Regions from separate parts of the Homo sapiens genome. Here regions 2 and 3 are each linked to region 1. Evidence: fine-mapped expression QTL. A gene starts in region 1. Each other region holds a variant in brackets. All regions are shown on one strand. Distances are between the middles of the regions.

Region 1 (8,187 bases):
GCACAGGAAGTACAAATGAACGATTATTGAAAACACTGCACTAAAATCTCAATAGGAGATAAGAGTGAGGCTTAAGTCATTAGAAAGCTCTATTATTCTGGCAAGTCTGAGACAGCACACTACAAACATGAGCTGTTCTTGAGATCTGAAAATATTACATCTTCCACCAACTTGCACACACACACAACTGACTCCAACTAAGCAAGGGCAGGGTCCAGTTGTCCAGTCCCAAGGGGAAGGAGGAATGAATTGAAGCAGATAGGCTGAGCCAGGCTATTCAGGTAGTGATTCTTCAGCTATATTTGAAGGGGTGGGGGTGGGGGGCAACACTGACAAATCAGATGATTTATAAAGGAAGTAAATATCCCGCTTTCATATCAATTCACCCGTACCATAGCATCACCATGCTCTTCATCACGCTCTGCTGGGGACACAAATAAAGGATTTGTGACATCTCTACCCCATTCTCACAAGTCACCAGAAAAGCCTAAGAATGCAGCATTGCTTTCCCTTTGTCCCTGTTCTCCCTGACTTGATAAACCATTTGCAGTTGAAAAATGAAGAAGAAAGTAATGGCCAACCAATTTGCAAAGTGAAAGCATTGCTTGGAAAAATTACCTGAAATCGCTACAATTTTGAACACGCACACACATTAAGATACATACACATGTACACATATATGTGTGTGCGTACATACATACATATATAAATACATAGTCTTCAGCATTTTCAAACATTAGGATGCTATTGAATTTTAACATGCCTGAAGTGTACTGCTCAATTCTTTTTGCCCTCGCTCTTGTACCACACATTTTTTTTTTAGAGACAGGTGGGCTCCCAAAGTTGTGGATATCTAACAGCTTGTACGAGAAGCTGCATAGCATAACCCGAAAGAAACAGCATTCCTGAATACATAGGATTTCCTCTGGGAGCAGAAAAACATTTCTTATACCAAAATTATGGTAAGACAATGTTCAAGACACTGAGGGCAACTTTAGCCTTGCCTTTCAAAGAGTAGAGTTTCATCTAAAGTAAGTAGGACATCACATTTCAATTCGTACTATTAAAAACTTGCATTACACAATGAAATTGATTACCCTATGAATCACTCTGCTTTACAAGAGGCTGAACTAGCATACAGTTAATAACACAAGCTAGCCCACTGAACATTTCTCCAATAGTCACACGATAATCCAGTCCAGCATGGATGGCCTTTGACCAGTACTTTTAGACTCTACTGCTATTCTAATTGGCCCTACTTCCTCACGACGATCACATAAGGAATTGTTTCAAGAGGGTGAAAATATAAACTAAAATTATAATCTGTTTCATCATCCTTCAGTATCATTACTGATGCTGAAATTGTATTTTGTCCAAAAGACCTATTATCTTTACAAGCTTTTCCATTTATGAAAATATATGCATGATAAACTCTGTTAGTGGCCAATAAACAAGCTTACCACCTCCATTACTACCCACTGGAAAGAGATGGTTTTTAACTACAGATTCTGCTTAAATTTGGCAATGCAATGAAATTGTTTCTTCCAAATCATTTTCAGCTATTTTAAGACTTCTCTTCTAATATGATACAAATTATAGGCAAATCAAAACTGTCAAGACAACTAAAGGCATTTAGCTTTTGGAACTTAGATTCCTTCCACACACTCTCAAGTGTCTCAAAGCCTAAAGGAAACAAAACAGAGCAAATAGTACATACAGAAATAAATTTCCAACAAACTAATAGTGCCCCAACCTAAGTTTATCTAAATACCTCTTTAATCTGAAAGAAGACGCTAGATTTAATATTTAAAGCAAACCAAGAAATCAGAGCATTTGCATCTTGGATACATTTCCTAGCCCCTCTCCAGTTGCTCTATCAAACCTTTTAATATCGCATAGATGCCCTTAAATGATGACGCCAGATAGGACTTACAGAAGGAAAGCATAACTTCAGAGAGGAGGAACAAATATTCAGTCCTTATCTTTGACTTCTTCTTATTTAGTGAAGGGGCTTGCCTCCTGTACTAGCAGTAAGTTGCGGCGTTAGAGTGCAAATGCACAGCTCCAAGCCCACTTCCAGTGCTCAACTGATAGCTCGGATCCAAGCCTCAACATGCTTTCTGGAAATGCAGGCAGCTCAACTGAAAACCTAACTGAGGTTTCTACCGTGGCACAAAACTGACCTGCACAAATATTTGACATCTCCGAGACCTCTAAAGGTTTCAAATAATATGCATTTTGTGCTAGGCTGCTCCTAGCTAGACAGAGCACTGAGATGATATAGAGAAGTGTTCTCAGCTGCTCAACCACACTGCTCACTAGACAATGTTTTCCTTTTCCGCCTCAGAACAAGAAAAACCAGCAAATACTGAATGAAATGCTCATATTGACTAAGCTTTCACAGCATCAATTGTATAGAAACTTTGTTTCACATTCCATTAAGTTAGCTCATGACTTCCCACGCTGCACTATTTCTCCTTCACCTAGCTAAAAGAGCCAACTTCATTCAGGCAAATCAAGGCAAAGTTTACCCCCCCGCCCCCTCCACATGTCCCTGTCTCTTTTCTTTTCCAACTTAAACTCATCCACGGCTAAATTAACAGCCCCAGTTGTGGCACAAAGGAAGCTTTGAAGGCTGCACCGGCTTGGTCCTCCAGTTGCCAACTGGAGGTAGGTTTAATGTAACATATTCTTGCTGCTTAAAGAATTTTTTAAGGGCTTGTCTGCACGGATGAAGAGCCGGACACCCCCAGAATTACATCATCAGAGTGAACACTCACCAAAATACATTATGTTTCTCATTAATCAGACAGCTGGAATCCCACCGCGGTGTCTTCAGCATCAGCTCTCACCCAAGGCTGGCACGTAGAGCAGAGCCCTTTCATGCTACATTCGGTGGAAATGTCCCCGGCGTGGAGAGCAGTGAGCGCCGAGAGCGTGCCTCCTCCGCGGGATGAGCGCCTTGCAGGCTGCCTTTCCAGGGCTAAGATCCCCGGCGGCTGGAGAGTGCGCTCGGGCTGCCTGCTGCACTGCCCATCCTTACTGTAATCCGACTCCTCCTTGCGATGTCCTTGCCGCGCCTGTGACATCAGGACTGAGAGTACTACAAGCAGACCCCTCCACCCCACCCCACCCCACCCTGGGTTAGCAGCCGCTCCACGAGGTGCTCCGACTGCCTGCCTGGACCAACCATGGCTCTCGGGAAGCTTTGACGAGCCCAGAGACTTGGGAAGGGGCGGAGTGAGGGGCGCGGGAGGCTCTCTTAAAGCGAGAAGAGTGTCGGGATCCACACAGGAACACACAGGAGAAATTCACCACTGTGCAGGAGGGACGTGGTTAAGGCGAGTTCTGCCATTAACGTGTAATTAGACAACACTTTTACCCCGCCCCTCCTGTGAATGCCACCATTCTCTCCAAAATTTAACCTCCTCTACCAAGTTAAAACGGCAGTACGAAGAGGGATGGTGCCGTGCTTGCATTCTCTTTGCTGTGGGCTTGAGGGTTTGTTGTTATTTTTTGTGATGTTTATATATAAGAGGAATAAAAGGAACGCCAGGGACCACTGCTAGGGTAATAGAGGTTCACACTTAGAAGTGATCACATCCCAGAAAGCTAGTACTTGGTGAAGTGTAATTTTTTATTTCTTGAGTGTTCCCTGAGCTATTATGTTGATAGAAAGATGTGAAGAAAAATAACTGGTGATAAAAGTCACCTCTCAGTTGCCCAGGACCAAATTTGCTGCCTCCCTTAGTAGGCAGGTAGAAAGCACACTGAGGCTGAAATGATCTTTGACCTCCTGAAACGGAGAGACGATTAGCCTGAAAGGCAACCAACATTGTGCCATAGTTAGAGTCCAGTCACCAATATAATATAGCCACACACACACACACCCACCCCCCTCCCCCCCCCACCACACACACACACAACGCTCTCATTAAATTTGAGATGAACGGTCAAGAAAGGCAAAGCTTAGCAAAGCCTCTGGCTCCTCCAATGGTATAATGAATTGCAGTCCTTATCTTACATAGAAAAGGATATTAGAAAGAAATCCCTGAAAGCTGTGCTGATTAATACTTAAATGCACAGCATGGAAAAAATAAACTCATACAGCAAGTTCCGTTTCCTAAGGACTCATCACTTTGGGAACCAATTTACGTACTGGAACATTTGAACTTATAAATTTCTATAGACATTTATGAAATTAAGAACCAAATATAAACAAAGAACTGTAGTCTATGGAAGAATGCAATTGATATATTTTTAATCTGGGCTTTTATAAAAGTGTGATAGCAAAGATTTCTACATTTTGATATTAAAATATTCTATAGCATTTCCTTACGCGATTCTATATCTCTTGGTGGATTTAATGTGCATAGAAACTAGGGGGCTGAAGCTCATAATAACGGCTTTCTGTGCAATCTTGCATAAAAGCTTAACTGTATTCTACCTCTGTGAAGAGTGCAATGAACAATATCCTCTCTCACGCTAGATTATAAAGAATTTGGTGAGTGAAAGTAGGTAAGCAAATATAAATCAGAAACATCACAGTGAATCTTAAGATAAATCTAGGGCTGTTCTTTTAGAAATACTCTTAATTTAAAGCCACCAGAGGAAAATTTACATAGTAAAGGATATTAACTTTTTTACTCCCTTTTAAAAATTAAAATAAAAACAATGTTACGGGAAAGTATTGAAGAAAATGCGTAAATGTTTTTTCCTTTTGGACAAATGGAAATTGTCCAAAAGTACAATTAGTAGTTCTTCCCTCAGGCAAAAGAACCATCTGTGGTAGAGCTTATTCATGAAGCCTGTAAGCTGCCTTGACCTCCTACATGTGCTAGGGGGCACTGTAGTTTAATGTTAGTGCTTTGGGTCCATTTGAGTTCCTGTAGTTGGAAGATGCAAGCATTGAGAGTTGAGTTTCAAATAGGAGATTTGAAACATTAAAGGACTACCTTAATCATTAATAACACGCTTGCATTTGCATGACATTTTACAGTTAAAAGGCACTTTCACATGTCATCTTTATTACTAACAAATTGAGATATAGAAAGGTGGATATTACAGATGTCACAAATGAAGAACCTGAGGCTCAGAGATGTTAAGCAACTTTCTTAATGATGTGATGAGTAAGAAACAGTTGTCTTACTATTTGTTTGTTGAATTTATATTACAGTTCTCCAACAGGTTTCCTTCTTCAAATAAATGTGCTATTTATAATGGCTCAGGTAAAAGTCACCCCCAATAAAACAATGTCACTGCATGTTCTAGAAACAAATATATCTATATGGTCACAAATACATCAGCAGGGAGCATCTGGTAATAGAACATGCCAATCTTTGCCTGGTAGTATACCCCAAAAAACAGCATGTAGCCTTTGAAAGAATATGGCATTCCAGAAACAATTGAGTGTAATATCTATACAATGTAATTCTGTTCAAACAGAAAAGGAAGATGCCCTTTTAAATTAAAGATATGTGCCCCTCTTCCCTGCAATTAAGGCTTATCTGGAATGTAGAAGCTTAAGATACAAAGTTGTTTATCTCTGGATGGAAAACAAGTGATGTTTGTTTTAATTGTATACTTTTTCCTGTTTTACATAAAACTATTTTATTTATTTGTATACATTTATTAAAAAATGCAACTTTGGTGGTTGTTGTTGTTGTTGTTGTTGTTGTGTGTGTGTGTGTGTGTATTTGCGTTTTGTACTTTGAGCAACATCTCCCTAATACTCTCACCCTGCAGCTCTGGTAACCATTTTATTCCTGTTTCTATAGAGTTTGACCTTTTTACACTCTACATATAAGTGAAATCATTGGGTATTTGTTTTTATGTACCTGGCTTATTTCACTTAAGACAACAATGTCCTCCAGGTTTATCCATATTGTCACAAATGAGAGGATCTTCCTCTTTTAAAAGGTTGAATAGTATTCCATTATGTATATATGCGACATCTTTGTTATCCATTCATCCACTAGTGGAAACCTTGCTTGATTCCTGTGAGTAATACTGCAATGAACATGGTAGTACACACATTTCTTCAACATATTATTTTTTTTAATTTTGAAGCATAATAATTTCCAAATGAAACCACAGCTGATCTTGGCTAGATAGAGGATTGTGAACATGCCAGCTGTGCCTGAGAGATGCTTTCATATGTCATCTCAAGGGAGCGACTTAGCAGCTTCTAGGGAAGAATCTGGTTCACACCCTGACCTTTACCTGTCTCTAAGAATCTGTGAGAACCTAGGAGCTTCTGAAGGTGAATTAAGTCAGTTCATCTGGGGTCAGCTGTAGCACCAACCTGCTTGCCAGATAAAATTATACCTAGCACTATTAAAACAAAGGATGCCTTCAAACCACTTACATATTTTGTATTAAAATATCATGGTTGGGTGAAAATTTTTTCTGTGTTCTAAGATCCGGGTAGCTGCCTGCCTTGACTCCTCATCTCATTCAAATATTGCTCAAAGGTTTATCAGTGTACTAATTCACTGTCTTTTTTTTTTCCAGTTTTAAAATGCCTTTGTCCCTCCCCTGACATTTCTTAACCTCCTTTCCTCCCTTATTTTTCTCCATGGCAACTATCATCATCTGACACACTATTTTAGACGTCTGTTTATTTTTGATTTCTCCTCACTGGAATATAATCTCAGTGAGGGCAGGGATTTTATCTGTTCAATGCTATATCTACAGTTCTTAGAAAGGTACCTGCTACTTGTCATTATACAATAAATATTTGTGAATGAGGGAATGAATGAATGAGCATCCTAAGTACAGCTGTATTGTGTGTAAGACATCATACTTTTCTATGTGCCTGAAGTCAGTTCTTTGAGGTTGGTTGTGTTTTGTGCAAAGTGTTCACACAAATTGAATTTGTCCATGCTTAGCAGCAGCTGCTCTTAAATTCCATTCAGTACAGATGCCAGATGGTACTGCAGGCCACAGTTTGTGAGTGTGTTTGTCCTTTCAAATTCTCATAGCTGCATGGAGCAGAGACTTAGATTCAGCATGAGTTAGCATAGCTCAGTTGTGTCTTCCATTGCCTCGCCCTTGGCTTTAGTTTAGTCCACCTTTATCTTTTATCTATATTGTAGCAATAAAATTGTATCCAGTGTTCCTGATTTCAGACTTGCCCATGTCCAATTCATTCTCCATATTAGATCCATTATCATCTTTAAAAATGGTATGATCATGCCACTCCTTTGCTCAGTATTCTTCACTGTTTCCGTATTTTATCCACCAAGGTCGTTAAGGTTTTCGACAACCAAGTCCCTATTCGCTTCTCCATTTGTAAATACTTTGTCCTTCACACTCTTCACTGTGTGAAACCTAAAGTATGGCTATAATTCACCTGAAGACTACATTCCCTTTCACCTGCTCTCTCTACTGAAGCAATCTGTAATCAATCTTTGGGTGTCTGTTTAAATATTATGTCTTCTGAGAACATTTTTCTCACCAAAAGACTAAATGAGGTGTTGTTTGTATTCTTTTTCACATAGCACACTGTACTAATTCCTACTATAGCATTTAAACTTAGTGTGGGAATTTGCCTTTACTTGTATGTAACCCAAATGAAAGAGGATTTTCTTTTTTAACTCCATGACCTCATACAAATCCATCGTTTAATGAACAAATTCATTATTTATCTATGAATTCATTCAACATTTTTGAATAAATTTAACATCTTATGAATGCCTATCATGTGCCAGGCATTACTCCAGGTGCTGGATGAAGAACGCTGCAGAAAGTGCAAAGGATAAATGGGGAATACACCTTATGAGTGCCAGGAAGAACAACAAGGCCAATATGCTAGAGTAGAGTAGATCTTAAAAAGCAAACCAAGAGTTGACTTCAAATAGGTAAGATGGAGCCAAATTCAGTAGAACTTTTTAGGCCATTAGAAATACTTTGACTTTTATTATGACTTACATGATATAACTTTGGAGCAACGTGATTTGACATGCTTCAACAAGTTCACTATGACTGACGTATGAAGAATTGACTAAAGCGAGCAAGGACAGATGTAAGGTGACGGGTTAGGAAGCCTTTGTAGTAATCCAGGAAAGAGAACATGGCTTGGACCAGGGAAGAAACAGTGGCGGTAGAAAAAGTGGTCAGATTCTCTACATGTACCAAAATGGGTCCACAGAATTCTCTGGTAGGTTAGATAAGCAATTTAAGATT
Region 2 (8,187 bases), 46 kb before region 1:
GCTACTTATGCAAATTTCTGCAGCCAGCTTGAATTTCTCATCAAAAAATGGGTTTTTCTTTTCGACTGCATCATCAGGCTGCAAATTTTCTGAACTTTTATGCACTGTTTCCCTTTGAAAATGGAATGCCTTTAACAGCACCCAAGTCACTCTTGAATGCTTCGCTGCTTAGAAATTTCTTCCACCAGATACCCTAAATCATCTCTCTCACGTTCAAAGTTCCACAAATCTCTATGGCAGGTGCAAAATGCCACCAGTTTCTTTGCTAAAACATAACGAGAGTCACCTTTGCTTCAGTTCCCAATGAGTTCCTCATCTCCATCTGAGACCACCTCAACCTGGACCTTATTGTTCATATCACTATAAGCAATTTTTTTCAAAGCCATTCAACAAGTCTCTAGGAAGTTCCAAACTTTCCTACTTTTCTATATTCTTCTGAGCCCTCTAAACTGTTCCAACCTCTGCCTGTTACCCAGTTCCAAATTCACTTCCACATTTTTGGGTATATTTTCAGCAACGTCTCACTCTACTGGTACCAATTTACTGTATTAGCCAATTTTCACGCTGCTGATAAAGACATACCAGAGACCAGGAAGAAAAAGAGCTTTAATTGGACTTATGGTTCCACATGGCTGGGGAGGCCTCAGAATCATGGCGGGAGGTGAAAGGCACTTCTTACATGGTGGTGGCAAGAGAAAAATAAGGAAGAAGCAAAAGTGGAAACCCCTGATAAAACCATCAGATCCATGAGACTTAATCACTATCACGAGAATAGCATGAGAAAGAACAGCCCCCATGATTCAATTACCTCCCCCTGGGTCCCTCCTATAACATGTGGGAATTCTGGGAGATAGAATTCAGCTTGAGATTTGGGTGGGGACACAGCCAAACCATATTAGTGTAGCTCAAAGATAACCATTCTTCTCCTTGCCCAGGATATTGTGCAATCCCTTGGTTGCCTCAAACCCTTCCCAATCATTGTAAATAACCCCTCTATTAAAATGTTTTCCATTACACAGTTTCAGCACGCCATTTATTTCTTGCTGGGTGTGTAAAATAAACTTTTTAAATAAAAAAGCAGTTACTGCAACCTTGTAAATATAGCTCATGCTCTTTATCCTCTTACAAAAAAAAAAAAATGGCATTCTCCTGTGTAAAGACACCACTGTAGTTCTTTTTTCATGTTGGCTCATGAAGCTGGCCATTATGCTGGTGAGTTGGCCAAATATGTTGTTATTTGTAGCATCTTCTCTTCTTGACCTTTGGGATTAAACTGAGCCCAGGCACTTACCTAGCAATAGCTGCTACTCCTGTATGGTCAACTCTCACCACTTTCTTCCCTACACCATACACTCTAGCACTATGCAAGTATTCCTTTAAGATCTTCGAACATGCCAAACTCCCTTCAGAATCTGTGTCTTGAGCACTGTGCTATAGGTTGATGTTGCTTTGTAGGGCCCTGCCTGTTTATGTCTTTTACCAACCACAACCACTGAAAAGAAATTGTTGTGCCCCTTTTTCATATGCTTTTCAAGTTAAAAGCAATGCTCAATCATAAAAGACAAAACACATATTTGGAAGTTAGAACAGATTACTCTAGGGTTTTTGCTCCCATGTAAGCTCCCTGAAACTGAACTTATTTTTGAGGTGACATTGCCTTGCTGCTGTAACTTAGCTAGTGGTTGGTTTGCCTACTCAGTCAGCCACCAACGTTCCTCTTTGTTCTTCAGGATTCTACTCAGGTCCTGCCAATAGCTATTGCTAAGTGCTGAATTCCAGATGAAAAGCCCTGCTTTATGTGTACTTGCAACATACTGTGTAAACCCCCTCAGAGTCCCGAGCACACATTCCTGTAGTCACTGGGTTACCTGTCTTCCCCTTGAATACCATTCTTCATTTACTATCCCTTTCCCTACCCCATGTTATTTCATAGCCTTTACCAAAATCTGATATTATTTATTTTATTTTATTTTATTTATTTATTTATTGAGACAACGTCTCGCTCTGTCACCCAGAATGGAGTGCAGTGGTGTGATCTCGGCTCACTGCAGCATCTGCCTTCCGGGTTCAAGCGATTCTTTTCCCTTAGTCACATGAGTAGCTGGGACTACAGGCATGCACCACCAGGCCCAGCTAGGATATTATTTCCTGATTCATTACCTTTTTCTCATACTAAAGTAAAAGCTGCATTAAATCATGTTTTGTTCATCACAGTATCCCCAGTACCTAGAACAGTACCTGACACATAGTAGGTCCTAAATAAATATCTATTACATGAAGGAATAAACTATATAATCTCACATTTCTCACATAGTGCTAGAAAAAGTAGATACTTAATAAGTACTTGTTATAAGCTTAACCCTAGCATCCCTCTGCAGTGGGGTGCTATGTCATATATTTCCAAGAATATGTCTCATATGGCTTGGTGGTAACCATGGTAAACTGCAGAGGCCCAAGTCATCTGTAAGGGGCAGTTGGGACTCAACTCCAGACATGTATTATCATTCAAGAATGTAGGGTTCGTGTTGCCAGATCTTCCTATGTTTGAAGAAAAGCCAAAAAGCTTGTTTTTTCCATGTTAAAATCTATTCATTTTAAAATGTAGCAATGAATTTAAATTATTATAAAATATTGTATGAACCAAATGAAATATCTGCAAGTACAATGCAGCTGGCATGCTATCAGTTTAAGAACTCTGACCCAAATCCCTGCTTAATAAAATGTACCCATAAAAGAAGGCACACTTAGTAAATATCAATACCCTGGACTAATAAGCTCTTTTAAAAACATCAGAAATATTTTCTTGGTACAGATTAAGAAAGGGCAGCAAGTTCTCCTATATTTATATTTTTAAAGAATGTTTTCTTATAGAAGTCCCAAAGAGCATGAGACAAAACTGCAAATTAGAAACAACTAATTAACTTGAAATGAGCAAAAGTGAATTCTACCGTGTTGAAAACTTATTGATCTCAATGATCCTACAGCTTTCAATTTGTGTAATGTAGTCTTCTACCTACGTGGGCATGGGAAGGCAAAGAATATGAGAGTAAGAGGACTTCCTCAAAGGTCATTTCTTAATCTCTTCATTTTACACCTGGGGAAATTAAAACTAAGAGAATAAAAGACTTGTCCATGGTCATATGATGGCAGAGCTGAAAACAAAACCTTCTCTGTGTTCCATTGCTTCTTTCCACCACCCCCAAAATCCACTTGCTCCCACATGCCTCTCCTTTGGTTCAGACTGTTTGCATT[C/T]GAGGTGGATTTTGCTGTTCCACTCACATGTTTGGATTTGGCTGTCTGGACTGTCCCTTGCTTCCTGACCCTGCAGTACCCAGTAGCTCAATTCCTGCCACTCCCACACCAAGCTCTGGTTGCCAAAGCCTCAGCCTGGGACATGTGCCCAGATGAGCTCAGTCACCAGGAAGAAAGCATGACTCGATCAATGATGGCAAAGGTGGGGGTGAGGAGTGGAAATTTACCATCCCTGTACACGACAGAACATCTGATGCACTACTTTGACTCCTCCAAGGGTCTAACTCACTCTCATATGTCTTGTCCTTAGAATAGTTACTCATTGGTTACAGGACTAATAATGACTGTAAAATTGGCTTACCTTTCTCAAAGGACAAAAACAGAACAGATTTCAATGAGGACATACAACCTTATGTGATTTCACACTGGCAAAACAAAACTCTTGTTGAGAAATTTGTCCTTATCATGCAATCAGCTTTTTTTTTTTCCTAATAGCTTGATTGAGATACAGTTCACATATCATACAAATCATCCCTTTAAAGACAATCAACTTTTGACAGCTCACGTGACATTTTTACACTGGGATCAATGAAGAACCATATATTTCTCCAAAAAAAAGTACATCTTTTGGTAAAAACTACAGTGATGCCAGGAATTAATTTTGCACAAGTTGTAGCATACTTACAATTTGAGGAGACAAAAGTGAAAATTGTAAGAGCTTTTCCTAAGTTGTAGCTGGCCCCTTAACTAGAGGCAGAAACTGGGGCTTAGGAAACATGTTCTCAAACTCATGTCTACTTTATAATGCTACCATCAGAAGTGATCAAGGACCAGGATGGTTTATTGCCATTATTAATCTTCTTAGGTAGAAAAGAGTCAGTTATAGTTAAGACCAATACCCAGAAATGCATTACTTTGCATGCACCATGTACATGAAGGCATCTGTTAAGGTAACAGAGCACCACATCACCTAACATTCCACTTCTGAGAGAGCAGCATTTAGATAGACACAAAGATAATAGATGATAGATAGATAGATAGATAGATAGATAGATAGATAGATAAATAGATTAGACAGATAAATTCTAATCACAGAGACAAATCAGGTTTAGGAAAAGGACAGATTATTTTCTTCCTCCTTCTTCAAGTAGCTGCCTCAGCCTTCATCCCTCTGTATGCGTAGATACATCTACGGGAACAATTTGAAATGCTTGATGAAGTTTAAGTTCAAAGGCTTTCAGTAGCTTACCTTTAATAAAACCCAGATGTGATTCAAATTTGAGTGGGCTTTACTTGCCAAGAATATTTGTTATTTTTTTTTAATTGAGCAAGCTGATGAAATGAATCACACTGCCAGGAGAAAAGGATGCTTAGTTAAATAGTTATTATTCTTTTTTAATAACTCCTATTTAGATTGGCTTCATTTTGTGACTTACAAATCACATCATCTTTATTAAAGGCACTTAAAATATTCAACATGAAATGATATTCAGAATGCTTGATTTACTATAAATTGTGCACAGGTGTGGGATTGTTTACAGTCCTTTGGTACAGTAGGAAGTCAAGCTTTCATTTATATTTCATGGTGCAGTAAGCACCGTTTAACTTTGAAGTGTTAGGATCATTACCAGGAGGCTTAAAATTCGAAGCAATTGTCAATGCAGATCAAATTTTAGACAGAACCCCCATCCTGATATCTCCTTTAATGACATTGTGAGTGCTTCTTTGTTAGAATCTTGAAAGGGAACGAAAGACCTCTACATATAGAAAATGTTTAAACCCATAAATGCTCTAAGGAGAAAAAATGTTGCAGATTACAGCAGTGTATGCTAATATGAGCAAAACCTGAAATGGGCTCTCCTGAGATGGCAGCATTTGGAAAGGGCATGGTCAATTCGAATATAGATATAAATTTATACTGAAAGTGAGATCACTTGAGAATGTACCAGTTTCTTTAATGCTCTTGGTTAATATTTCCAATTAGTAATATCTATTCCCTTGATCGGTCTTCAAAGATGGGAAAAATACAAACTGTAGAAGATGAAAGATCTGTTCTTTTAAAATTTTAGAAGATGAGAAGTGAGTAAGCAGGATTATACGTGTGCATCTGTGCTTAGTGACCTGAAGTCACTTAGTGGTGATGCGGAAGGAGCTCTGAGCTGGGAACAGACAGCTGGATGTTTTAGTCCTGGGTCCGGCACTACGGGCATGTAGGACTTTGGAAAGTAACAATCTCTATGTGACTCAGTTTCCTCATCTGTCAAAGAAGCAGCTAGAAATGATATCTTCATTTCCTTTTTGCTCCAAATCTCCATGACAAGCCAAGTTCTAATATTAGGTCAAAGATCCTAAGCATCAGTTTAAATTTGTTGGTGCTTATAAGGAAAAAAGTAAAAGGAAATCAGTCTTTCTGGGTTAATTTTAGCTACTGTTACTCAAATGGGCAGCAGCAGTAACTGCTAAGAACTTATTATGTTCTAGGCCTTGGGCTGGGAACTCTGCAAGCAGTATTTCATGTAACGCTTACAGCAACACAATGAGGGTGGTGTTATTTGCTCTCAGCTAGAGTAAAGTAACTTACCCAAGATGGCACAGCTCTTAAGCGGAAGAAATAGGATTTAAACTCAGGTAAACTCAGTTACTCTTGCCTAATGCCACTGCTCTGAACTGTTATTCCCTCCTCCTATAATTTATGATTCCTGAATGTTCCAGTCTACTTATTGGCTTCTCCTGACCCATGGACATTCCTCACCCAAGTCCCAAAATGTGGAAATAAATTTGAAATTACTCTATTACATTACTAAATTTTAAAAGATGCTTTCACTCCTTATCATTTTCTATGTTTTTACAGATTTTTTGTATTCAATGTTAAAAATTATTTTATTACAGCTTGGTTTGATTCTCCCCTCATTCTAATATTTTTATTTTGTCATCAACTTTCATAAAGCAATACATTTAGTTTTCTAAGAATTTCAACAGATTTGCATCAGTAGACTTTGTTGGTTATTTTTCCTTTCTAAATCTGTTTAATTAAGCCAATAATTAAAGCATCCGAAGTGTGTGTGGGCGTGCACACACACACACACACACACACACTAACAACAACAATAATATACTGATCTTAATGTCCTTACTAAAACTTAACTATCATAAGGCAGTTTCTCCTTAAAGGCAAAGGTTTGTTTCGAAAGCTTCCATGGTAGAAGAAGCCACAGTGAGAGATTTAGGAACACATGGGTAGATTGGAACTTAGGTTGTAATTAAAACTCTCACAGGCTCAATACTTCCTCTCATATTTCTTAAAATAAAATGCACAAACCACAAATATGGTGCTGTCAGTAACATATTATATATTTTACATGAGTATTAGTGGATACCATAATGTTTATTTCCATTTTCCATCTCCTTCAGGATCTCACGTTCCTTTCAGAAACAATGATACACATAAATTCACTGTGCTTTGATGAAGCAGTGTACTCAAAGGCAGATATATTGTGTTTTCTATGCTAATCTTCCTTCCAAACATTCAATGACTTTCTAATTTTTCGAGCCAGAGTTGTCTGTACCTGCTTTTTACTAATAATTTAGTCCCCATGAGTTTCCAGAAACCCTCTCTAACCCTAAGGTGACTGACCATACTCTTAACAGAAGCAGGGGTTCTCTCAGGCAACTTCATACCTCCTGAGGCTTCTATGAAAACAAAACAAAACAAAACAAAACAAGACTCACCTTTTTCTTTAGCCTCCTTGTCTACTCTTAAAGCATCAATTTCCCAAGTCTTTTCAATAGAAGTGACTCTTGAATGATATTAGAACTAAACACCTCAAGGTTAAATAAACTATAAGAGAAAAACATCACATACTAGTTTTAGCAGAAGAAAAGTCATAGATAAGAGGGACGCCTCTATATGTTTTTTCAATATTTATTGTAAAAGTAAATTCAATAGTTTTCCAGTTTTGTATAAAGTTAGATATACACTTAATATATGACTCAGCTGTCCCACTCCTAGGTGTCTTCCCAAGAAAAGTAAAAACTTTACGAAAAACCTATTTGAAGATGTATACGGTGCACTCTTTATAATCACCAAAAACTGGAAACAAACTGTCCTTCAATGAAGTGAACAGATTGACAAGCTACGGCACACCCATACGTGGAATTCTTCTTAGCAATAAAAAGGAACGAGTTATTGATACACAAAACATGGATGAATCTCAAGGGCTTTGGGATGATTGAGATGAGCCAGTTTCAAAAGACTACATACTCTATCATGGCTTCAATTACACGACCTTTTAGAAAAGGTAAAACTACAGAAACAGATATCAGACAAGCGCTTTCAGGAGTTGGGTATGGGGGTATGGTTTAGAATAAAAGACATGAAGGAGTTTGGGGGAGAAAATGGAACAGTTTCATATTTTGATTGATGTGGTAGTGGTTACATAGACTGCATGCATTTGTCAAAATTTATAGGACTAAAGATCAAAAGGAGTAATTTACACTTTTACGAAAATAAATAGATAGATACTTGCTTTTTTAGTAAATTGGCTCTGCAAGACCCAATGATCTGGTGAGACTGGGGTAGGGTGATATGGTTAAGATTACCTGTGTAATTCCTAAAACCCAATTTATTTTTTATAAAGTTCAACTGTATGGCTTTTTCTGAATTCCTTAAGGTGCACTGGCTTCTTTTTGTGTTTTTCATAATCCTCCATAACCTGAGAATCATTCGATGCCACAATGCATATTGGTGAGCAGTGCCCAATCTGTACTGCATTTTAAATTAGTATGTTACAGTCCTCGCATTTTCTCAGCTTTGATGCTCAGTTGTTTTTACTTATACTCATGCATGTTTGGGACAAGATATCTTAAACCATAGACAAAAAAGGATCTATGATAATTCTGCAGACTTTTAGTGTTGGAAGCAATATTTAAGGTCTT
Region 3 (8,187 bases), 620 kb after region 1:
TTCACCTCAAATACTATCCCATTAAGGGCTAGGGCTCCACAATATCAGTTTGGGGGAGATATAAACATTCAATCCATAGCAGGAAGACATCACTAGCTTTACCAGGCTCTAAAAAAGTAGAAGTAAATACATTTTTAATTGACTAGAATGTTTTAAATGATCTCCCGTGTGTCATCTACTTGTTCAAAATATAAATTACACTGGCAGTTTTTGGGTGTGTAATCTACAGAAGTTGATCTCAGCTTCCTAAGTGGCAATTTAAGCACTTGCTTGATTTTCAACTCACCAGCTTTATTTTATTCAATTTCTCACTTTAGAGTCCTTGTCAGAAAACTAAGAAGTACCATCTACCTTGAGTTCCAAGCTCTTGAAACATTCAAAATTACAGATCCTTTTCCAATATTAGTTTCTTCAATCTGGGATGTCAGTGTGACTCATGTTTATGGAGCTTAAATTACCTTTCAGAGATCTGGTTGTTCAAATCACCAAATAATATCAAATAAAATATTAGTCCTATTGTTTGAATATGAAACAAACATTTTTAAAACAGTAGAAAATACATACATGTGATTATAAGGCTAACCATTTACAAGACTCCCATTGTCATGAAACATTTTGCAGTTTGACGATTCAAGTTCATAATTAGTTTCATTATTTTAATACTCTTCTAAGGTTAAATATGTTAGCTACTATAAAAACCTCCTTAACTACTGCCAAAAAATAAAACAACTCTCTAGGCAAGTTATTATGAGACATGTAGATTTATTGGAAACAGTAAGATATCATGCAAATACAATGAAACATAGTAAATTATCGTTAATTTCCCCAAGATTTTCTATTTTCCAAAGCTGCTCCCAAATTTGGAATATTAATAGCATTAGCATCCCAATGGGTTTATACAAATTTTATTTGATAATTCCATTCATGTATGGATAAATGAGATCTGTGACTTAAAATATATCATCACTCTCAAAATAAAGTATAATTACAGCTAGTGAAGAAACATGACAAAGTTATCTTACTTGTTCTTACTCCTACTTTTAAAACCTCAAAATCTTTATAGACAGTACTAACATTACTTAGCTGAAGAACTCATAAGTACTGAATTTATGAAGTTGGAGATTATAAGAAAATAATGGATACTGTATACTCAGCTACCTGCATACACTTAGCAATGAGAAATGCAACATTTTAATTAAATTACAAAAAAACTAAGTTAGATGTGACTCATCTAATCTTCGTTACTATAGATGAAACACTGTTTTCTTGAATTGCAAACATTTTCATTATTGAACTTTTGATGCACCTGGTAAATAGCAAGTCACAGCAGGGGTAGTAATTGTTTTGAAAATACTGTTTAAAATAAAAGGGAAATTTTAAAACAAGCTGCTTGTACCTCTTAATGGAAATTTAAAATCCTGTCAGGATCTGAGCTTTAATTATAAGCTGGCTGAAATATGGAAGTGTTCATGTAGACCTCAGGATAACTCTATAGTCACACAAATATGATGTTAGCACCAGACATGTTTGATGTTATAAATCACACATTGTTAAGACAAGGGCTATAATGTAGCACTATTGATTTACAATAACAGGACTCAAAGAACGTCATTCAAGATGAACACTAAGATCTCAGTGTTCTGCCCTCTCTAAAGCTGGCAGTCCGAATTATATAAGTGCCACACAATTTTTATTTTATTTCACATCTACAAATTCTGCATTCTGTTATATTAAATACCTGAAATGGTTGGGTATGAATCAATCTATGGTATTACAATCACTGTATGAATTTTTCATGGAATTAAAACTTAGAGAGGTTTATTGCTCTCATTTTTCAAGTGAGGCTCAAAGAGGTTGTGTAGGGGTTAACAACCGACTTTGGAGTTCTGCAATCTTGGATTACAAAACACTAACTGTGGGACTTTTCCCAATTTAACATCTCTAAATCTCCTTTTCCTTGTCTACGGAATGGAGATGGTAACAACGCCACCTTCTTGGGATTGTTAGGCATTTACGTTAGCTGTAGAGTTTGGTGTTCAGTGAATGGGAAACACATTTTAGGTGTTATTATTATTAGGTAACCCCAAAGATCTCTCAGCCACATTGTCATAGAGCAAAAATAATTCAGAAGCCCCGATTTTTGCCTCAGGTCTCTTTCTCCTAACACAGACAACTTCCAGCACTTCATTTCCTTAAATCTGAGATAATACATTAACTCAAGATGTTTGCCCATTCCCCTAGTCTACATTTTAGCTCCATGAAGAGAGTGCTCAAGTTAATTTCTAAAAAACATCTGGAAAGAAATGTGAAGAAATTGCAGCAAAGCCCGGACATGCTGTGTTGCATCAATCTACATAATTTGAAATGACCCATATTTGCCTTTCATGCTTAGAGACCAGAGTAGTGTGACTGAATTACCAGCATAGGCCAACGAGTGGCACGACAACCCAGAGGGAGGAAGACCTTTCCAGTAGGTTTTAGAAAACATCGTGAACCGGAATTCAGTGGTCACCTGAAAGGCACATTTCACAGACCAGCTAGCAAACAGACTCAGCAGAACAGAGATGATTTCCCCACCATATTCCGGGAACACCGCAGAATTAGCATAGAACAGCGCCAGCTCTAGGGTCCTTAGTTACACCTACAGAATGTCAGATGTTCTCAGTCAGTTCAAGGTTCCAGAATTGAAGACACTCCAATGCCCAGAAACCACGCATCACTCGTTTGAAATCACAGACCAGCTCGGGCTAAAGCACTCATCAGCACAATCTCCAGAAACACATGAGGTGGACAAGCCTGATTGTAAGGGGGACAGATCTGGAATTGGGCATTTCACACAGGGTGACACCATTTTGGAGGCTGCAGGTGTCCTCTGACCCAAATTCATACACACAATAAAACATCTCCCAAAATGCAAGAGGTCAAAAGGTACACAACTCTGTGCTCTCTTCTAATTTGCTCCTCCAGGTACTCAATGGAAGCGTAAAAAGAGGCACTAGCTGGCCAAGAAGACAATCAGATTCAGGAGCCCTGGCTTACACTCAGCCTCCCAACCCCACCCTAAATGTCAAAGTGATTTCCTTGGAGGGACGCTTCATATAACTCAAGAGCTTCTCATCCTGCCCTCAAAACGCGTGTATCTCAGGTTTTTTTAAGTATTTGTTTTAAAAAGAAGAAGAAGAAGAAGGAAATGAAAAGGAAGCAGGAAGCTGTCCCGCTGTGTTTCTTTATCCCAACAACTTCGCCAGGTTTCCCCCGAGGAGGGAGCACGCCTCGCACACACCCAATGAAAGACAGACAGCAGGACGTCCTTACCGGGTGGCCCAGCCCTCGACTCTGGACAGAACCAGGCTGACCTCGCCCCCCCGCCTCGGCCTCCCCTGCCCCTTGGTTCTCGGCAATGAGCTGTGACCTGAGACCCTCCAGCTCCGCGCTCTTCACTCTGGCCCCGCAACCTCACATCTCTTCTCCTTGGCACCGAGAAGAGGCTGGGGTGTGTGGACCGATAGTGCGGGATACCGAAAAGGTGGTCCAAGGTCTGGGCGGTGCGAACGCCCATTCCGCGCCCCCCATGCGAGCCCCAGCCCCTCGCGCCTGGTATCCCGCAGGGGCGCAACCCTAGCTCCTTGCCCGGCGCCCCAA[C/A]GAACTCCGCCACCTGAACCGAGACACCTCTTTTTGCACTCAACTTACCGCGGCTGGGCTGAGCTTTCGGCGCCCCCAGGAGCTTTTCTCTCCTTCCTCCCACCGAGCTCTTCATTCTCCTGCTGGCGGCCGCCCGGCGCCCTGGCCCTGGCATCCGGGAGGAGCAGCCGCCGGGGCTGGCTGTCCCGGGAGACGCACGGCTGCCCGCCTGCAGCTTCAACGGCGGTGGTCGCCGCGAGCCGTGAGCGGCGGCCAAGGAGAACGGTCTCCGTTGCGCAGCGCGTGCTGTCCCTCCGGCACGGGCTGGAGGTGGCAGTCAGCGCGCCTCTGCCTCCGCCGCGCTCGCGGCGCTCCGCACGAGTCCCGAGCCGGCGTCAGCCCAGGTGCACCAGGCTGGGGAGAGGTGCGAGCCCGCGCGAAGGGAGGGGCCCGCGGCCTGAGGGTGCCGGGAGAGAGCGAGACTGATGACCACGAAAAAAGAAACCTGGAGACTAGAGGCGAGGAACTAGCTTTAATGGAGTGAGTGGGTCGTGGGTGTTAAGTGGAAACACGAGGAGGCGAAATGCATCTAGAAACTACAGATATCGGAAATGAGCTTGAGTGAGCTGCTTTTTGAGTGAGGCTCGAAAAGGGGGCTGTCATTTTGTGCTTACCTCCTTTATCCTCCTGGTTTGGGTGCAGTACCAGACAACAACTTCCCCCACACTCTCAACTCTCATATTTAACTATAAATAACGCTAACCTCAACAATCTTGGACAGCAGACGCAACGAAATCTGGTGAAGCTACTGCAAGAATACAGGGGAGTCCCACATCCACAAATCCCACATGCCCATCCCTCTGGAAGGACCCATATCCTACTGAGATTTCTCTCCTCTTACCTGTCTGTCTCCTCTCTCTCTCACAAGCACACGCACTCACACACTACGGTACCCTAGGGATGAAATCACACGCACGCACACACTACAGTACCCTAGGGATGAAATACCTTTTGTTGCTCTGTTCTAGGACTTAAAGTGGGTGTTTCTCAAACTTTACTTTGCACAGGAATAACCTTGGGATTTTATTACAGTTCTGATTCTGATCCAGTAGATCTGGAGTGGGGCCTGATATTCTGTATTTTTAATGGTGTGGCAGAGGCTGCTGATTCAAGAACCATATTTTGAGTTACGACACACAAATGAACAAACCTGCTTTCTAATATCGGCTGAGCCATTATTTGTAAGATAGTCTGAAATAACAAAACAAGCCCCGTTTTCATGGGGTTTCAGGATGCTGTGGAGGCCAAATAACTAATGAACACAGTGCCAAAGGATAAAATACCCTACAGGCAAGCTTCTCATTATTGTTATTAATAATTACTCCTGATAAAATCATTACGAATACTAATGCTGATGACAGGGTAGAGAGATTTTGGTAATTTACCATTCTACATTTTCTCAAGAGAAGCTCTGAAAAACAATCCACAGTGACCACCCCACAAACACACCCTGATTTAGAAAGAAAATGTAAGTAATATCCTCTAAGGGGCAGTCTGTTCCTCCCAGGAGGCCATCGTTGAATTTTCCAGACACGCAGCGCTATTCAAGTGTGTATTAAAAAGTAGCCAAATCACTTATTAACCCACAGATAAGAAGAGCAAATGCCAAGAACAAAAAAATAAAGACAGAAATATAGTCAATGCACCAAAAGATCTGTTGTGATTTGAATTAGCATGACTGATAAGTTAGTTTGACCCTTTCTCTTTTTCCATGCTTTCATCTGAATGTAAACACCCATCCTTCTATTTCAATTCAAGAAGTACTTACTAAGCCTAATTTACCATGGTAAAGGCCTTTCTTGGGAGTGAAAAAAAACTCGTCCTGCCCCTGCTTTAAAGGAGAAATTGGACAACATACCAATAAGTGCCGTATTAGGCAGACTATGGTGCCAGAAGAGAACACCAAACACATTAGCAAAGTTCAAAAGGCAGTGAAGTCTGGAGATACTTCATTGAAGGGAGGTCATTTGACAGAAGTCTTAAGATATGATTTTCTCTGACAGAGATAAAAAGGAAGGGAGTAGTCTATAGTCTACCCTTCTACCCAGAGCATACAGTACATGGAGGAAGGTAGAAGAAATGATTTGGAAGATGTCAAGTGGGGCTCTAATTGCTAGCCTGGGCAATTTGTACTTCACTCCAGAAATGCTGAGCAGGGGACCTCCATGACCAGGAATGTACCAAAAAGATTAATCTGATATAACAGGTTCATAAGATGATCTAGAACCAGAAAATAGTAGAGCTGTAGAAAGCATTTAGGAGGCCGTGGAAGCACTAGGTAAAAGATCATGAAGGTAAGAACAGTGATAGCAGCTGTGGAGAATGAAATATAAGGATGTTTAAAAAGAGACATTGCTGAGATGTAACTAACAACGTGCAGCAATTACGTGAAGAGGCATTTATTAAAGATATCTCTAACTTTCTGTCCCTGGAGAACTAGAAAAATAGTGACACTTTTAGGAGTTGAGAACCCAAGAAGGGAATTTACAGTTGTTCAGTTTTATTTTAATGTTTGTTTAGGAAAGGTTGTGAGATAATGAGTTCTCTTTAGGCAGCTGTAGTCAAAGGTCTGCGGGAGATGTTCAGGTGGAGATCCTTATACATCTAGAAATTCAAGCTTTGCTCTATGGAAATGGTTCTGCATTAGAGCCTGTATTAGCTCTTGTGTTTTAGAGCTCTGGACATGTGTATGGAGTTCAACTGTTGGGAGAATGTGAGGTTTATGAGGTAGAATATAGGAAGCAACAAAAGTACTCAGGACAAAAGCTTAGAGCTATATGACCTCCTTGTTTCTCAATATTCTCATCTGTAAAATGTGAAAAATAGTACCCTCCACATAAAGTCATTATAAGGATGAAAAATAATGTACTGATTTTTCATTGCAATTTATATTTTCTACACTAACCTGCTCAGTCTGAGAGGGCAGGGACCATGCGTATCCTCTTAACTGTTACAGCCCCAGCACCTGACTGAGTGCTTGGCAGATAATAGGCTCTAAAAATGTTCGTGAATATTTTAATAATTAATAAGTTAATTATTAGATTAAAAGAAGAAGGGACACCAAAGAACTACCAAAAAGACGGGCGAAGATACAGTCATGGGTTCTATTATTTCAATGTCATGGAAACTAAGTTAGGGAAAATTTTGCTCTAGAGATGGTCAGGTGAGCACAGAGAGATTAAAGAGAAAACATGAATACACATTGAGAAAATGCCTGTTGTTCAAACCTGAGTGACATATTTATCTTCAGTTTCTCTAATATGCTAATTTTTTCTTGTCTCAAGCTCTTTGCATATACTTTCTCCCTTGAATGGGCTGAACGTCTTTGGAATCCTTCTTATTTTTTATTTTATTTTATTTTTTTGAGACGGAGTCTCGCTCTGTCGCCCAGGCCGGACTGCGGACTGCGGTGGCGCAATCTCGGCTCACTGCAAGCTCCGCTTCCCGGGTTCACGCCATTCTCCTGCCTCAGCCTCCCGAGTAGCTGGGACTACAGGCGCCCGCCACCGCGCCCGGCTAATTTTTTGTATTTTTAGTAGAGACGGGGTTTCACCTTGTTAACCAGGATGGTCTCGATCTCCTGACCTCATGATCCACCCGCCTCGGCCTCCCCAAGTGCTGGGATTACAGGCGTGAGCCACCGCACCCGGCCCTGGAAAAGTTTTTTAAAAAGTTAATAAACGTAGTTAGCCCATACTCCTTTTTTCTTAGATTGGGTTATTCAGGAAACAGACTCTGTAGACATGGAAATTAGTGTGCAGGATTATTTGCTGGGGAGAGCCATTGAGGTCAAGGCATGTGAGAATAGAGCATGTGGGAATGGGTAAAGCTACAATACAGTTTCAACACTGGCCTTCTGTCAATCTCACAGGAGTTCTGGGCTGCATTGGCCCTTTAGAGTTATCCTGAGCTGATGACAGGGAACCAGGTCTTTGTACCATTGCAACAACCAGTCTTTTCTAATAATCAGAATTACGTTCACATAGAAGCCTGAAGAACTAACCTGAATGAGAATTTGAATATTTTATTATTACTATTTTATAGCAAACAGAAGATGACTACATTGAATGCAGCAATTGTTTTAATAAGCATTATTATTTGCAAGGCACTGTAATGGGTACTTTGGGGGAACACAAATGTACTTAAAATCATATGTTTGATATCATGAAACTTAAGAAGTAAATGATGTATACAGAAGTAAATTATCTGTAAAAGGAGGATAATAATAGTATCTACCTCATAAGGTGAATATGAAGATTAAAAGGTCTTCACTAAGTTAAATATAAAAGTATTTGCTTTTTTGCCCTAGCTATAATAGGTGGCACTGAAAGATTTTGTGAAAAAAAAATAAAAGAGGAAAAACAAGTTGCAAGAAGCTCAGGGTAAGAAGTTTTCACTTTATCAGAGAAAGCCTAATGAAGAGAAGGGATTAGGTTGAGTCTTAAAGAATGCTTTGGACTTTGAAAGGCAAAAATGATGGTGAAGACAATATGGCATTCCAGGGAA

What was found.
Region 2: its variant is fine-mapped to the expression of ZNF385D in nasal epithelium (TOPMed, PIP 0.96).
Region 3: its variant is fine-mapped to the expression of ZNF385D in testis (GTEx, PIP above 0.99).

What each region holds. Positions count from the first base shown.
Region 1 is chr3:21,748,115-21,756,301 of GRCh38, forward strand. It overlaps ZNF385D (zinc finger protein 385D), which reads right to left and starts at 3,096. Exons shown (of 8, transcript NM_024697.3): 1 at 2,781-3,096. The coding sequence starts at 2,802.
Region 2 is chr3:21,702,539-21,710,725 of GRCh38, forward strand. All of the region lies in intron 1 of ZNF385D (zinc finger protein 385D), which reads right to left. Among named protein-coding and RNA genes, the nearest start is that of ZNF385D, 45 kb to the right of the region's middle. The variant C/T (reference allele first, on the strand shown) is at 3,253.
Region 3 is chr3:22,368,760-22,376,946 of GRCh38, forward strand. It overlaps a transcript of ZNF385D not described here. Among named protein-coding and RNA genes, the nearest start is that of ZNF385D-AS2, 420 kb to the left of the region's middle. The variant C/A (reference allele first, on the strand shown) is at 3,643.